Linked DNA regions of Homo sapiens: region 1 is linked to region 2. Evidence: fine-mapped expression QTL. A gene starts in region 2. The other region holds a variant in brackets. All regions are shown on one strand. Distances are between the middles of the regions.

The links.
Region 1: its variant is fine-mapped to the expression of CNNM1 in nucleus accumbens (GTEx, PIP 0.97).

The regions. Positions count from the first base shown.
Region 1 is chr10:99,456,315-99,464,686 of GRCh38, forward strand. GOT1-DT (GOT1 divergent transcript) reads left to right here. Exons shown (of 5, transcript NR_183993.1): 5 at 4,295-5,519. Among named protein-coding and RNA genes, the nearest start is that of GOT1-DT, 30 kb to the left of the region's middle. The variant T/C (reference allele first, on the strand shown) is at 3,989.
Region 2 is chr10:99,324,453-99,332,824 of GRCh38, forward strand. CNNM1 (cyclin and CBS domain divalent metal cation transport mediator 1) reads left to right here and starts at 4,904. Exons shown (of 11, transcript NM_020348.3): 1 at 4,904-6,508. The coding sequence starts at 4,936.

The DNA of each region.
Region 1 (8,372 bases), 130 kb after region 2:
CCCAGATTCATCTCACTCTGATTTTAACACTACTTTCAAGAACTCATGCTCCTATGGGTCCTTTCTCACCGTGTCATCTGTGATCCAACCTGCTTTAACCTGTCTGTTCTCTTACCTGTCTGAACCTGCAGATGCCCACACTGAGGGATTCTCAGCCCTGGAATCCTCCATGTCTTCCCCTCACTTCACCAATCTATCCAGGACCCTGACTGCATCAAGCCTTTGTAGCAATGGCAATGTTACCCCAAACTGACTGCAGATGCCTGTGACCTTTGGGATTCCCACCTGTGCTACTTGTCCTGTTCTTAAATTAAATAAATGACCAAGTCAGGGATCATATGCCATCTTCAAGACAGGAAGTCCTGCTCTCCGGCATCTTGTCCCCTGATCCTAGGCATGGTGTCACTTTCTGCCCATAGGAACAGTCTAATAAAAAACTTCACTTGGACTCTATACTAATTTACAATTAAAATTACTAGCTTTGTGAGAGTATGCAAAGTATTCATGAACTAGGATTTGGGGATAGAAGAGGCAGAAATGTTTTCCCATAATAATGACTAATATAGCCATCGCAAATGATATTATCTTTTTTTACTTAATCCAACAATACTTTTTCAACCCAACTTGAAGATTATAATTATCTGAAAAGAAGGATATTAATTATAATTCAGACTTTTTTATACCAACTTCCCCATTCTTCCAGTCACCCCGCCCTACCTTCCCCATGCCCTCCAGGCATCCAAAATTGTGGAATCAGCATGTATAGGGCTGGGTACCCTGTGAATACTCAGTAAATATTAACTGTCTAAATGAATTAATCTATTCGCCTCTGGTATAAGTACTTTTGCTGTCTCTCAAATTCAAATCATTTCCTCTCCTTTTACTAACACAGGCATTCATGCATTTAATTCAAAAGCAGTTATTTACTTAGGGTTATTATGGCCTCCACAAATGCAGAGTCTGGTAATGGTGCAAGGCAGTATGAGAACAAGTGCTCAGATGAGGGCCGCAGCAATGGGGAAATAGAAAGAACGTGGGCCTTGACCTCAGCCGACCTACCTTAATTGTAAAAGTGGAGTATTGACACCCAGTTCCCAGGGTCGTTAATAACATTGAATGTTTTGGGGTTTTTTTGAGCACTGTGTGTACAAACCTCTTCAATTCTCCCTGAGCCCCTACATGGGGAAAGTGGGACTTTAAAGGGCTGAACAGTTTGCCTACCTTGAAGTCTCACTGCTAGCAGTGGGCAGTGCTGGAATTTGAACACACTCTTAACTCTTCTTTACAATATCTTCTTTGTGGGAGTGGTCTTGAGAATTAAACTCCTGTCAAGTTCCTCTCAGTATGTCAGTTTCCTCATCCCCTTGTCAGGAGAGGAGGACACTAAGTTCCACGTGTGGAAATTGGTCATGTAACCTTAACCCTGGAGAAATGTGAACGTTATCTCCTGAGGGGCAGCGGTCCACCGGCCACTCAGACCTATTGTTGCCCCAGGAAGGAAGAAAGAATTGGGATTCTGCTTCCCCTTGAGGGGACTGAGAAGTAAAACTGCAGCTAAATCAGTGGACTTTGGGGACTTGTGGGGAAGAGTGGGAAGGCAGTGAGGGATAAAAGACAAGAAATATGGTGCAGTATATACTGCTTGGGTGATGGGTGCACCAGGATCTCACAAATCACCACTAAAGAATGTCTCATGTAACCAAATACCACGTGTATTCCAATAACTTATGGGAAAAAAAAAAACTCTTAGCCACTCTGGAAGGACTGCAGTTAAATTACAAAGAGAAGCAGTACATCCACTGTCAGTACATCTACTCGGATGCTTTTGTCTTTTCTGGTTGCAGCTTGGTCTTGTCTTCTTTCTTAGAAAATGTTCCTTTACTTGTGAAAAGTGCTATCCTTGTTTCTGCTGAACACAGAGAATAAGGGGGTTTGTCTACACCCATGTTGGCTCCAAGAGAGGATCAAAGTGTCCTTTGGTTTAGATGTGGTGACAGCAGCTGGAGAACTAGGGGAACCTGGAGGAACTGGGCAGATGGAGGGAGGATAAGGTGGGAGGCAATTCTAAAGCCAGGATAACCATCTCTTACTACAGGGGATTCTACTACCAGCTCTTCCCAGCAGGCTTTTTCACTCCCCTGCAAAGGCAGACAGTGCCCCAGGAGGTCAGAGATGGAGCTATCCTAATGCCTTGATAGGAGGCAAAGACTGGATGGAGGCAGTGGAGTATAAAAAGAAAGATCTGGCCGGGTGCGGTGGCTCACACCTGTAATCCCAGCACTTTGGGAGGCCAAGGCGGGCGGATTACAAAGTCAGGAGTTCAAGACCAGCCTGACCAATATGGTGAAACCCCATCTCTACTAAAAAAATACAAAAATTAGCGGGGCATGGTGGCACGCGCCTGTAGTCCCAGCTACTTGGGAGGCTGAGACAGGAGAATCACTTGAACCCGGGAGGCAGAGGTTGCAGTGAGCTGAGATTTCGCCACTGCACTCCAGTCTGGGCAACAGAGCAAAACTCTGTCTCAAAAACAAACAGACAAAACAAAACAAAAAAAAAAAAACAACCTTATCAAGCTTCAGGGCCAAGGATACCAGCTGTGAGATTTGAACAAGTTACTCAACCTTGCTGAGTGTCCTGGTGTATAATGACAATGAGACACACACCTCACAGGGAAGCTGTGACAAGCTAATGAAGTCATGTTTATAAGGGACCTGGCAAAGTAGGTGACAGTTGAGCACCTGGCGAAGGATGTGACACTCAGGCTGCAGCCACAATACATGGGAGAATTTGGCTTTTGCTATATCTTACCCAAAACTTGGCTGGGTTGTTCTGATCCTCCCAAGAAAATGTATAATGACAGTAACTCTAATAGCCACTAAAGTTAGTCAATTTTGGGAAAAGAAAAAGGAGAAAAATGAGCTGCAAAACAATTCCACTATCAGAGAGGGCAAAAATGGAAAGGAAAATTTTAGAAGAAAAGTAATACATAGTAAATCTAGAAAATAATCTAGAGTACCTCACTAGAAGGTCTAAATTTAACCTTAAAAAAGAAATCTTGGTGCCTGGGGTGGAAAAACAAATCATCTTTTTTGCTGACTGTACAAGTAAGATGATTAAAGTAGCAATAGAAAAGAGCTTTTAAAAAAATGATGGTAAAAGGTAAAAATGGAAATCCCACACGTGACTCCTAATTTTAAAACAATTATAGTAAAATATTTATCACATAAGTTTACTGTCTTAACCACTTTTACATGTAGGGTTCAGTGGCGTTAAGTACATTCACAATGCTGTGCAACCATCACCACCATCCATCTCCAGAACGCCTTTCATCTTGCAAAACTGAAACCTCTGTATCCATTAAACACTAACTCCCCATTCCTACCTTCCCCTACTCCCTGACAACCACCATTCTACTTTCTGTCTCTATGAATTTGACTACCCTATGTACCTCATATAAGTGGAAGCACACAGTATTTGTCTTTTTGTGACTGACTTATTTCACTTAGCATAATGGACTCCCAGCTTGTTAACTAGATATATTCCAAAGTCATTTACAATGTGATGTATGGATATAAGTCATAGTAAATGTTTTTTCTTTTTTCTTTTTTTTTTTTTTTTGAGATGGAGTCTCGCTCTGTCGCCTGGGCTGGAGTGCAGTGGCGCCATCTTGGCTCATTGCAATTTCCACTTCTCGGGTTCAAGCAATGCTCCTGCTTCAGCCTCCCGAGTAGCTGGGACTACAGGCATGCACCACCACGTCCAGCTAAATTTTTGCATTTTTAGTAGAGACGGGGTTTCACCATGTTGCCCAGGCTGGTCTTAAACTCCTGACCTCAGGCGAATGTTTTAAGTAAAGAGAAAATTCAGATCCTACCAGGCTGGCTTGAACCAATGCCAATTTCCATAATGAAAATGGCTCTCCCCAGATGTAGAAGAGGAAGTGCATACAGATGCAATGTGATCCCAGTGAAACCCCAAATGCAGC[T/C]TCTGGGGCCACAGACTTCTGCCTCTCTCTTGAATTTCTTTGTGTTGCCACAACGTAAGAGTTCAGAGAGGTGTTGACAGCATTTCCCTTTATGCTTTCCGTAGGGTCCATATCATTATTACCCCTTCCCTGGACATTCACAATAACTCCTAATACACAGGCAGGATATAAGTTAGACTACTTATATTTACTGAGAACTTACCATGCACCAGACACAGTCAACTTTTTAAAGTGGACAATTTTAAAGAGAAAACTGTAATGGGCAACATAATCATCTCCTACCATCTCTGTTCCTTTCTTTCTCAGATTATGAAGTAGCTATGGAATTTGAATGGGTTGATTCTTCAGCTCCCAGAAAAAAACTTTGATTGGTTTAACTGGCCACAGTAATTGATGTGGGAATGAGGCCCTGACATAATTTCAACTTAGAAGACATGTTCACTGGAAGTGAACTAGGAAGCATGAAGTCTCAGACATTCGACACTGAAAGAATAAGCAGTCTTAGGATGAAGGCAGTGCTATGGACACCAGAACTCCATGGTTCAGGCTGTTCAGCATCAACTGTTCCTGACAGCCACCCTAACGTGCCTCCAGTTTCCTGGGCCAACAGATGCCTGTCATTGTTGAAGTTTCTTTGAGTTGGGTCTTCCGTTACTTACAATTTAAATCACCCTCACTGATTACTATGTACTTAATTGTTCTCCTCCACTCTCTGCCAATCCATATGCTGAAGCCTTAACCCCCAACGTGATAGTATTTGGAGACTGGAACTTTGGGAGATAATTAGATTTAGATGTGGTCATGAGGATGGGACCTTCAAGATGAGAATAGTATCCTTATAAAAAGTGGTACTAGAAAGCCTCTCTTTCTCTCTCTCTGCCACGTAAGAACACAGCAAGAAGGCAGCCATCTGCAAGCCAGGAAGAGAGCCCTTACCAGAACTTGACCATGCTGACACCCTGATCTCAGATGTGCAGCCTCCAGAACTGCAAAAAAGACACATTTTCATTGTTTAAGCTACCTAGTTTATGGTATTTTGTTACAGCAGCCCAATCTGACTAATACGCTGATACAGGCATATTAGGGTACATGCCACCAGCAGAGTGGTTCAACTGCAGGTCCACACTTACCCAGTGAAGGTGACTCAGCCTAGAGTGTGACTCAGTCTCTTCCCAACCCTGTCCGCATCACCCCTGGAAGAGTCAGCTCCTCCCACAACTGCAGTCCTGACAGCAGCATCATGCCTCTGAAATGATCTTGCAAACAAGCTGTCATTGGAGTGCTGAGAGAGTGGCAATATCAACTAAAAACATGAAGAAGAAGAGCAACAAAGAGGAGGAAGAGGAGGAGAAGAGGGAAAGAAGTGAGGCGCTGTGGTGAAGAATAGTACTTCTCATCTCCACCAGAACAGCAGAGAACAATGAAAGCACACCATCAGGACGTCTCAGGGTACAGCCAGAAAAGCCATTACCATTTGTGCCAATATCTTTGAAATCTTGTATTTTGTCATAAAAAGTTATGCAGTTTCTGTATTCTACTTCATCATGTGCCTTTATATTTTTTATATCAAAATGTCTCCCTAAAAACCTTTGAGAAGGGCCATTTTATCTCAAATCTTTGAAATAATTTCCTAGTCCCACCATGCTTGCCCTGAGATGTTCACACCCCAATATGAGAAGCACATGTACATCAGAAAGAGGACTGGACTTAGAGTTTTAAATCTAAGTTCTTTTCCAATACCATGCTTTCCTAGTCTTGATCTTGAAAAATCACTCATCATCTTTAAGCTTCTCTTTCGTCATGAGTGAAAGAAAGGATGACACCAACACCTTCTCTCCCTTTCTCATAGAAGCATCAAGCTCCAAGTAGTTAATGTGAGAAAAAGGACTTGGGAGAACAGGAAGCTCTGGCCTTTTTGTTGTGTAGGGTATTTTCCCAAGAATACTTTGGAAGTTTCCTTTAATTTGTTCTTGGACTAACCTTTCCTATTCACTCTGATACCTTTTTGTTCAACCCTTGTATCTGTGCATGGAAGAGCACAGGAGGCAAAAAGAATAAGGATTTATAGTCACTTGTCAATAGGCGTGGAAGAGAAGTCAGATTCTTATTTATTTGAGATAAAGTCTAGCTCTGTTGCCAGGATGGAGTGCAGTGGTGTGATTTCTGCTCACTGCAACTTCCACCTCCTGGGTTCAAGTGATTCTCCTGCCTTAGCCTCCCTAGTAGCTGAGATTACAGGTGTGTACCACCACTCTCGGCTGATTTTTGTATTTTTAGTAGAGATGGGGTTTCACCATGTTGACCAAGCTGGTCTCGAACTCGTGACCTCAAATGATCCACCTACCTCGGCCTCCTAAAATGCTAGGATTACAGGCATGAGCCACCGTGCTTGGCCAGATTCTTATTCTTGAGGTGACCTCTATATCCCTTCGTTCCCTTCATGTCTGTATCTTCCACCCTTATCATGGCATCTCAAGTTTCCCTACTTAAGAGAATCTGAGCCTGTATCCCTCATACTTGCCTTATGGACAAATCACCTGGGATACAGGAAGGCAAGTGACTTCCATCTGCAGTAACAGCTCTGGTTCATTGGTTGCTTAGAACATTACATTGAGAAGAATCACTCAATGGGAAAGAATATAGATGGGTTGGAGATGTCTGCACAGACAGGGAAGTGAGAACAGCCACATTTGTGGCATCACTAGCTGTCCTTGGTTGACAGGCTCAAGATGAGTCAACTCAGAAAAGTGTTGGACGGGCACGGTGGCTCAGGCCTGTAATCCCAGCACTTTGGGAGGCCAAGGAGAGCAGATCACTTGAGGTCAGGAGTTCGAGACCAGCCTGGCCAACATGGTGAAATCCTATCTCTACTAAAAATACAAAAATTAGCTGCGCGTGATGGCAACCTATAATCCCAGCTACTTGGGAGGCTGAGGCAGGAGAATCGTATGAACCTGGGAGGTGGAGGTCGCAGTGAGCCAAGATCGTGCCACTGCAGTATTCCAGCCTGGGGAACAGAGTGAGACTCCGTCTTAAATTAAAAAAAAAAAAAAAAAAAAGTCACAATTATTGAAAGCTGGAAGGTTTTCAGAAAAATCTCAAATGTAGGCGTTTCCATCCTTGGGGTCTTGACTCGTGAGGCATTTACAAACTTAGTAATAATGACTTATATCTTATTTTTGATAATATGAAGGCCCAACTCCTTCCCTATGATAGGGTTGTCAAGGTTCTTTCCTTTTGAGCAGAACAGTATCTACTCCATTCACTAATGGCGTATCATGCTAGTCGCTATGATTGACATTTGTTGAAGTCACAGAAATTTCCGGAATGTTATTGGTCCACCTGACAGTCCAGGATGCCAATTGAACCCATGAGCAATTGTGGACTTGAATACACAGTGATGACCTAAGATAAGTGACTGCTTGAAGAGAACAATGGTAATAAAGAGACTCCTGGTGATTAAGAGCCTGGGAATCAATGTTCTAATGAAATATGACATCAATCTTAATGTAACTGCTTCAAATCCTACCCAGTAATTCTGAAATTTTTAGGGGCTTCAGATTTGGATGAACACACCATGAGTTTATTTCAAAATGCCTATTTCTATTTCAGTATGCAATTACTTGAGACTTTTTTGAAAAAAATAACAAACAGCTTCTATTAAATAATTGTCTTTTTGTTGCAGAATTCTAAAGGGTTTATGGACTGTGTACATACACTGCATTTAAGCTTTTCATTTATTTGACTACTTTGGTGTTTTCAGTTTGCCGGAAAGCAGGCCCTCATAGATGAAAGGCCCAGCTGGTGTCCAAAAGCCATCGATTTGCCTTGTCGGCTCTTTAGGCAACCAGGCTTTCTAAGTGGGTAGGCCCATAGGGTGTTTGTTTCATTTTGGTCATGTCCTACTGTGCTTCAACATAAAGCTACACAACAACCATAAAAGACATAATGATTACATATTTTTGGAATTTCTTTCTATTTTTCCAGGGTTTCTTTAGGACCTACCATTTCTTTTTTTTTTTTTTTTTTAGATGGAATCTCACTCTGTCACCCAGGCTGGAGTGTAGTGGCATGATCTTGGCTCACTGCAACCTCTGCCTCTCGGGTTCAAGCAATTATCTTGCCTCAGCCTCCTGAGTATCTGGGACTACAGGAGTGCCAACCCTCGTCCAGCTAATTTTTGTATTTTTAGTAGAGACAGAGATTCACCACGTTGGCCAGGCTTGTCTTGCTCCTGACCTTAGGTGATCCACACACCTCCACCTCCCAAGTGCTGGGAATACAGGCGTGAGCCACCATGCCCAGCCGGGCCTACCATTTATTTCTATCTGAGTTTCCCTTGCCAGTGAACTCTTGCATTTTAAGTAATAGCCATTGAGGAAAA
Region 2 (8,372 bases):
TACTTGGCACATGGCAAACACTCAATAAATGCTAACAGGCCAGGCACGGTGGCTCATGCCTGTAACCTAGCACTTTGGGAGGCCGAGGTGGGCAGATCACTTGAGGTCAGGAGTTCGAGACCAGCCTGGCCAACATGGCGAAACCCCATCTCTACTAAAAATACAAAAATTAGCCAGGAGTGGTGGCGTGCTTCTGTAATCCCAGCTACTCAGGAAGCTGAGGCACAAAAATCGCTTGAACCCAGAGGCAAAGGTTGCAGTGAGTGGAGATCACGCCACTGCACTGCAGCCTGGGCGATGGAGCAAGACCCTGCCTCAAAAAAAAAAAAAAAAAGCTAACAGATTACATTATTAGGAATATTACTAATATACTGTCATAGTTTTAAAGTACAAAAAAGGAATAGAAGATACAAAATTTAATAATTTTATGTTCTTCCTAATGTATAAATTCTTCCATTTTTATAACATCTAATTTTTGTGGATAGAGTTCCCAGACCCTCTTCCCTAGATGATGGGTCCCATGCACCCTCAGGGCACTTTGAACAGCTCCTTCATGGCAATAATTAATTAATTAGGCAGGTAGGTAATTTCCGGTTTATGTCTGTCTTCCTCAGGAGAATCTAAGCTCCAAGATGACAAAGATGGTGTCAGATATGCCCAATATCTAGCACAAGGCCTGGCACTTTGATGATTAACAAATATTTATGGAATGGATGAACAAGAAATGAAATAAACAAAAGCATTTTAACATGTACATTCTGAAATAGTATAGTCATGATATTAAAAGTAAGTATTATTTCCTCCATCTCTCTGAGAAGCGAGGAAGTGCCCATCTTGTAAGCTAAGAAGACAGTAAACATTCAGATTCTGGGGAGCTATTTTTGGCAGCTCTTCCTTAGGAGAATCACACTGCCTGAACCTGTCCCCAGGAATCCTTTCAGTTACAGCAGAGCTCTGGAAACCCAGTACTTTTCCAGAACCTCCTATTCAGTAAAAGGAAAAGTACTCAGTCTCTCTAGATTATCTTCACACAGTGTACATTAGCCCTTACTCACTGACTCATGAAAGGGTAGGGAGCTTAAAACTGTCATTTCACGAATGAGGAAATGAGCCCAGAAAAGTAGATTGATTTTCCAAGCCTAACATTTGTTAATAATAGAGCTGGTGCAATTGGGAATAGGCTCATTCTTACAGTTCTCTCTCTTTCTCAATACATATGTAATACATATATATTTGATTTATTTAAATGACATTTATGAATGATTTTTATTACATTGGGGAAAAAGCCCTTGATGTGTTAAGTAGCAGGAGCTGACTAGAATTATGTATAATACATATTTAATTATAAAATATGTAACTATATGGAGAGCACGTGTGTGTGTGTGTGTGTGCATGTATTTCTCCATTACTTATCTATGTAGAAAATGTAAAAAGTAGTATAAAAAATGTTAACAGTGTTTATCTCTAGTTGGTGGGTCATGGTGTATTTTTATTTATGTTCTTCTGCATTAAAATTTTTGTTAATAAGCATGTAATACTTTATAACCAGAAATTTCAGTTTTTTAATTCCTGCTCTAATATTTTTTAAACATTTTATTTCCGTCAGCTCTACCAGATAAAGGAAGCATCAAGCTAGGGTCCAAAGAAGTTTTACCAGTCATTTAACCTGATCTGTAAAATGGGTATAATTATACCTACTTCCCAGGGCTCTTGTGTATATGGAATAATAAATAAGAAATTCCTTCATAACTTTAAAGCTTGTTAAAGATGTTACGTGGTATTGTAATGATGATAATGTTCTGTGGTCTAAAAGAGCTGGGAAAGCCCTTAGGATAGCGGGTATCTTTGTGCTGAGGAGTTTAGGTTGGGAAGGGAAAGAAGTCTAAGTGTCAGGAGAGAAGTAAGCGCTTTTTTGCACTTAAGAAAAACAATCAGCTGGGCGGGTGGCTCACGCCTGTAATCCCAGCACTTTGGGAGGCCGAGGCAGGTGGATCACCTGAAGTCAGGAGTTTGAGACCAGCCTGGCCAACATGGTGAAACCCCATCTCTACTAAAAACACAAAAATTTGCCAGGTGTGGTGGCACACTCTTGTAATCCCAGCTACTTGGGAGGCTGAGACAGGAGGATTGCTTGAACCCAGGAGGTGGAGGTTGCAGTGAGCCAAGATCGCGTCACTGCACTCCGGCCTGGGTGACAGAGCATGACTCCGTCTCAATAAAAAAAAAAAAAGAAAGAAAGAAAGGAAGAAAAACAATCATATGGTTGACCCCAGTTCTCTCCTTCCCTTATACTTCGAATAAATGCCTCAATGTTCCCTCATAAGATTAAACCTCCCTTCTGTCTCTTAAGTAGCCCATGCAAAAAGCAGCTTATAGTGGACAGGATCTAGTGTATTCTGAGACAATGGCATGTCACAAATGCCACGGAAAATGAGATTTCACACATAGGGATGATTTTACACTAAACCCAGGTGCCAAGGGTGGTATGTAAAATAACTCTTCCTTTTTAATTTATTAATTATTTTTAGAGACAAGGTTTCATGCTGTTGCCCAGGCTGGAGTGCAGTGATGCGATTATAGCTCACTGCAGCTTCGAATTCCTGGGCTCAAGTGATCCTCTTGCTGCAGCCTCCCAAGTAGATGAAACTACAGGCATGTGTCGCCATGCCTGGCTAATTTTTTTTAATTTTTAATTTTTTAGAGACAGGGCCTCCCTACATTGTTCCGGCTGGTCTCTAACTCCTGGCCTCAAGAGATCCTCCCACTTCAGCCTACCAAGTAGTTAGGATTACTATATTTTAAAATGTAATACAGACTTATGATAAATTTACCCAAGAGAAATAAAAATTTATGTTCTCACAAAAACCATCACACAAATGTTCATAGCCACTTTATTAATAATTGCTAAAAACTGGAAATAACTTAAATATCCTTTATTGAATGGATAAACAAACAGTGACACATCCATATAATGGAATGCTACTCAGCCATACAAAAGGATGAACTACTGAAAATCACAACAACATAGATGAATCGTAAATGCATTATGCTAACTTAGTAAAGGAAGGGAGAACCCAAAAGGCTACAGACTGTATTCTCCATTTATATGATAATCCGGAAAAGAAAACTATAGGGGAGAACAGATCAGTAGTTCCCAGAGGATAAGACGAAGGGAGGGGTTGACTACATACAATAGGACGGTAAGAGAATTTGGGGGGTGGTGGTGATGGAATTACTTTTTATTGTGATGTTTACATGTATATGCATTTGTCAACATTCATAGAACAGTACACCAAAAAGTGAATTTTACTATATAAAGTTTAAAAATAAATGCATAAAAATAATATAGTCGAGTAAATTCAAACAATATAAGGAATTTAATAAGAAAGTCTCCCTCCCAGATCTTGGTGATAATAGATCTGTATTTTGAGTGCAGTGATGGTCACATACATCCATACATGTGATAAAATGATAGAGAACTATATACACACATTACACCAATATCAACTTCCTGCTTTTGATATTGTACTATAATTAAGATGTAACCCGCCAGGCACGGTGGCTCATGCCTGTAATCCCAGCACTTTGCGAGGCCGAGGCAGGCGGATCACCTGAGGTCAGGAGTTCGAGACCAGCCTGGCCAACGTGGTGAAACCCCGTCTCTACCAAAAAAAAAAAAAAAAAAAATTAGCCGGGCGTGATGGCGGGCGCCTGTAATCCCAGCTACTCAGGAGGCTGAGGTAGGAGAATCGCTTGAACCTGGAAAGCGGAGGTTGCAGTCAGCCGAGATCGCGCCATTGCACGTCAGCCTGGGTGACAAGAGCGAAACTCCGTCTCAAAATAAATAAATTAATTAAAAGATGTAAACGGCGGGTCGCGGTGGCTCACGCCTGTAATCCCAGCACCCTGGGAGGCCGAGGCAGATGGATCATTTGAAGTCAGGGATTCGAGACCAGCTTGGCCAACATGGTGAGACCCCATCTCTACTAAAAATATAAAAATTAGCTGGGCGCGGTGGCGCACGCCTGTAATCCCAGCTACTCAGGAGGCTGAGGTAGGAGAATCGCTTGAACCCGGGAGGTGGAGGTTGCAGTGAGCCAAAATTGTGCCACTGCACTCCACCCTGGGCGACAGAGCAAGACTCCATCTCAAAATAAATAAATAAATAAATAAATCTCATATAAGTGTGTGTGTGTGTACAAATTTATACATAAATACTTTTAACACAAATGGTAGCATATTATACTTGCTGTTCTGCACCTTACTTTGTTTCTACAATTACTTTGGAGATTTTTTTCCGTATCACATATACAACAGATCCACCGCATTATTTTTTATTGCCGCATAGTATTCCATTGCACAGTGGTTTCACTTATTTCAACAGTTTCTTATTGATGGACATTCGGATCTTAACTAAGAATTGAACTTAAATAATCCAGAAATGTTTACAATAATGAAAGGTCGGCTGGAGTTGAGGCTAAAAGTTTTCACATATTCAAGACTTGACTCCAGAATATTCTTTTGACCAGAAGGGGGAATGCAAGTGGCAGGAGAAGCGAAAAGCTGGGAAATTTCCCGGGCCAATGGGGAAGCAGTGGAGCCGGCAGGGAATTACTGCCGGGTAGGAGTTCGCAGAGGAGCACCTTACTTTTGGAGTAGGAGGCCATGCTGCAAACCCAGACTTTTCAGGCTGCATCTCAGATATACCGAAGTGTGTACCCGCTACGCACAGTGCGGTGATGCCTGGCCACCTCCAGCCTCCAGCGGGGACCTCCTGCCCAGGTGGAGTCTGAATGCCCACCGCCACCAGCCCACGCGCGCAGTGGGCGTACACGTGGTGACCTGCCTGCGGCTGGGTTCCCAGCTCCGGCTCCTCCTCCCTCCAGCTCTCGCTCGGCTTCCTGCAGTATCACGTGCAGCTGCGCTGGGTGCAGGATGGCGGCGGCCGCGGCGGCGGCAGCAGCGGTGGGTGTCAGGCTCCGGGACTGCTGCAGCCGAGGCGCTGTGCTCCTGCTCTTCTTTTCCCTGTCTCCTCGGCCCCCGGCCGCCGCCGCCTGGCTGCTGGGCCTGCGGCCCGAGGACACTGCTGGAGGCCGCGTGTCCCTGGAGGGGGGCACCCTGCGCGCCGCCGAAGGCACCAGCTTCCTCCTGCGTGTCTATTTCCAGCCAGGACCGCCGGCCACCGCCGCACCGGTGCCCTCACCGACCCTCAACTCGGGGGAGAATGGCACCGGCGACTGGGCTCCGCGGCTCGTGTTCATCGAGGAGCCCCCGGGCGGTGGCGGCGTGGCCCCCAGCGCGGTCCCCACTCGCCCCCCGGGACCGCAGCGCTGCAGGGAGCAGAGCGACTGGGCATCGGACGTGGAAGTCCTGGGGCCCTTGCGTCCCGGGGGCGTGGCAGGCTCGGCCCTGGTCCAGGTGCGAGTGCGGGAGCTGCGCAAGGGCGAAGCGGAGCGGGGCGGCGCGGGCGGTGGCGGGAAGCTCTTTTCACTCTGCGCCTGGGATGGGCGCGCGTGGCACCACCACGGCGCCGCCGGCGGCTTCCTGCTGCGCGTTCGCCCGCGGTTGTACGGCCCAGGCGGGGACCTGCTGCCCCCTGCGTGGCTGCGGGCGCTCGGGGCGCTCCTGCTGCTAGCCTTGTCGGCCCTGTTCAGCGGCCTGCGCCTGAGCCTGCTGTCGCTGGACCCGGTGGAGTTACGGGTGCTGCGGAACAGCGGCTCGGCCGCCGAGCAGGAGCAGGCGCGCCGCGTGCAGGCCGTTCGCGGCAGGGGGACCCATCTGCTCTGCACCCTACTCCTGGGCCAAGCCGGAGCCAACGCGGCCCTGGCTGGCTGGCTGTACACCTCGCTGCCGCCGGGCTTCGGGGGCACCGGGGAAGACTACAGCGAAGAGGGGATCCACTTCCCGTGGCTGCCGGCGCTCGTGTGCACCGGCGCGGTATTCCTGGGCGCCGAAATCTGCCCCTACTCAGTGTGTTCGCGGCACGGGCTGGCCATCGCCTCGCACAGCGTGTGCCTGACCCGGCTTCTGATGGCAGCCGCCTTCCCCGTGTGCTACCCGCTGGGCCGCCTGCTGGACTGGGCGCTGCGCCAGGAGATAAGCACCTTCTACACGCGGGAGAAGTTGCTGGAGACGTTGCGGGCCGCAGACCCCTACAGTGACCTGGTGAAGGAGGAGCTCAACATCATACAGGGTGCCCTGGAGCTGCGCACCAAAGTTGTGGAGGAGGTGCTGACCCCCCTGGGAGACTGCTTCATGCTGCGCTCAGACGCGGTGCTCGACTTCGCCACTGTCTCCGAGATCCTGCGCAGCGGCTACACTCGCATCCCAGTGTACGAGGGTGACCAGCGGCACAACATTGTGGACATTTTATTTGTCAAGGACTTGGCCTTCGTGGACCCCGACGACTGCACCCCGCTCCTCACTGTCACCCGCTTCTACAACCGGCCCCTGCATTGTGTTTTCAATGACACCCGACTGGACACGGTTCTGGAGGAGTTTAAGAAGGGTGAGCAGTAGTCTATCTTCTCCCCCAACTCCTATCCCCTTCAAAGGTATTATCCTTTCCTAACCACGTGAGGCTCTAGGTACCCAAAGCAATTTCTCTCCTATGGTACTAAAAACCCAAGGAAGACTCTACCTCTTGGCTCCCTGGCTATTTTCATCTCACTTCTGCCTCACTTCTTGCTCCTGATTGAGCCCCAGGCCTCTTTCCTCTCTACTTGATTCACAAGATGCACCATATTCCTTATTTGTTCCATTCTACCAGGTTTTTCCAAGGCCTACCAAATGTCAGATACTGTGTAGGTGGGAGATAGCCCTTGAAGGTCATTGCATAGCTCCCCACCTATTACAGGAGACACCTCTGCAGGTTCCCATACAAGCAGCCTTTGCTTTAAACTCCTCCCAGGGCCGAAAGCTCACTATTTACAGAGCAAACTAATTCCATTGCTGGACAGCTCCAGTGGCTGACAATGTTTCCTCATATAGAGCAGAATTTGTGTCTCCAAATCCTTCTACCTCTTCTGCCTTTTGAATCATGTAGACTAAACCCAGACACCTTAGACGTTCTTCCCCATACTTAATTTCCCATCAGGTATTGATTGCACACATATCAAGTACTCAGGTCCAGGGCCGGGCGCGGCGGCTCATGCTTCTAATCCCAGCACTTTGGGAAGCTGAGGCGGGAGGATTACTCGAGCCCAGGAGTTCAAAGCTGCAATGAGCTGTAATCCCACCACTGTACAAAAGAGCAAGACCCTGTCTTTGCCCGGGGGGGAGGGAAGTACTCAGGTTGGGGGTTAAAAGTTGACTAAGGCAGTAGGATCCTTGTAAGTCTGGGAACTGTGGTCCTGTGAAATAGGATAGATCTGGACCTGAAGAAATATTCTGGGTAGAGGAGATCCTAGAAAACTTGCATACCCAAATGAGTGGGGTTTCCTTCAGCGCAGTCACCATCTTCCAACTCTCCTCCCCAAACTCAAGCTTGATGTCATGCTTATAACATGTTTACTTCATGTCTGAGTTTGTCTTCAGAAAGTGCCTTCTGGTGACTACAAATTCACTCAAGAAAAATCAGCCTGGATACATTAGAGTCACCCCTCTTGGCATTACACAGTTTGACCGCCCCCCTAGTTCACCAGATTTGGCCCAGAACCCTTGATTGTTTTTTAAAATCAAATCTACTTTCAAGAGTCAACACTGAGAGCATTCAAAAGACTATCTCACAAACCCTGAAAGCAACACCAGACATCATAATTTGAAAACAGGGACATAATTAGAATAAGTGTAGAACTTCCCAGAATGACTCCTTTGAAGGAGGCATTCATCTGATATGAGTTGGAATGTTTATTAAAAACAAAAACCAAAAAAATCAATCCCTTGACTTCAGATTCAGCCTTCAGATATAGCTTCCTAATGGCTAGCAGTACTCTCATTTAACTGCATTTTGTATAAATTTTTTGTCAAAAATTTAATGTCATGATAATTTGAGCCCGAGGCTGCAGTGAGCTATGACTGTGCCACTGAACTCTAGCCTGGGTAACAGAGCAAGACCCTGTCTCAAAAAAGAAAGAAAGAGAGAGAGAGGAAGGGAAGGAGGGAGGGAGGGAGGGAAGGGAAAATTCAATCTCACTACTTTAACATCATAAATAATCTTTAGAACTTTGAATACAAACAAATCTGGGGTCTTTTTCCTGCCACAATTTTTGAAATCATATTAAATATTAAAATGTAGCCTGGAAGGGGGGAAAAAGGTCTAAAAGCTACTTTCAGTCTCAGATTTGAGAGAACAGCCCTAGACTTTGTGTTGGTATGATGAGAAGGGAGAGAAATGTATATATGGCAGCTATTTTAGTCCATTTTCGGTTGCT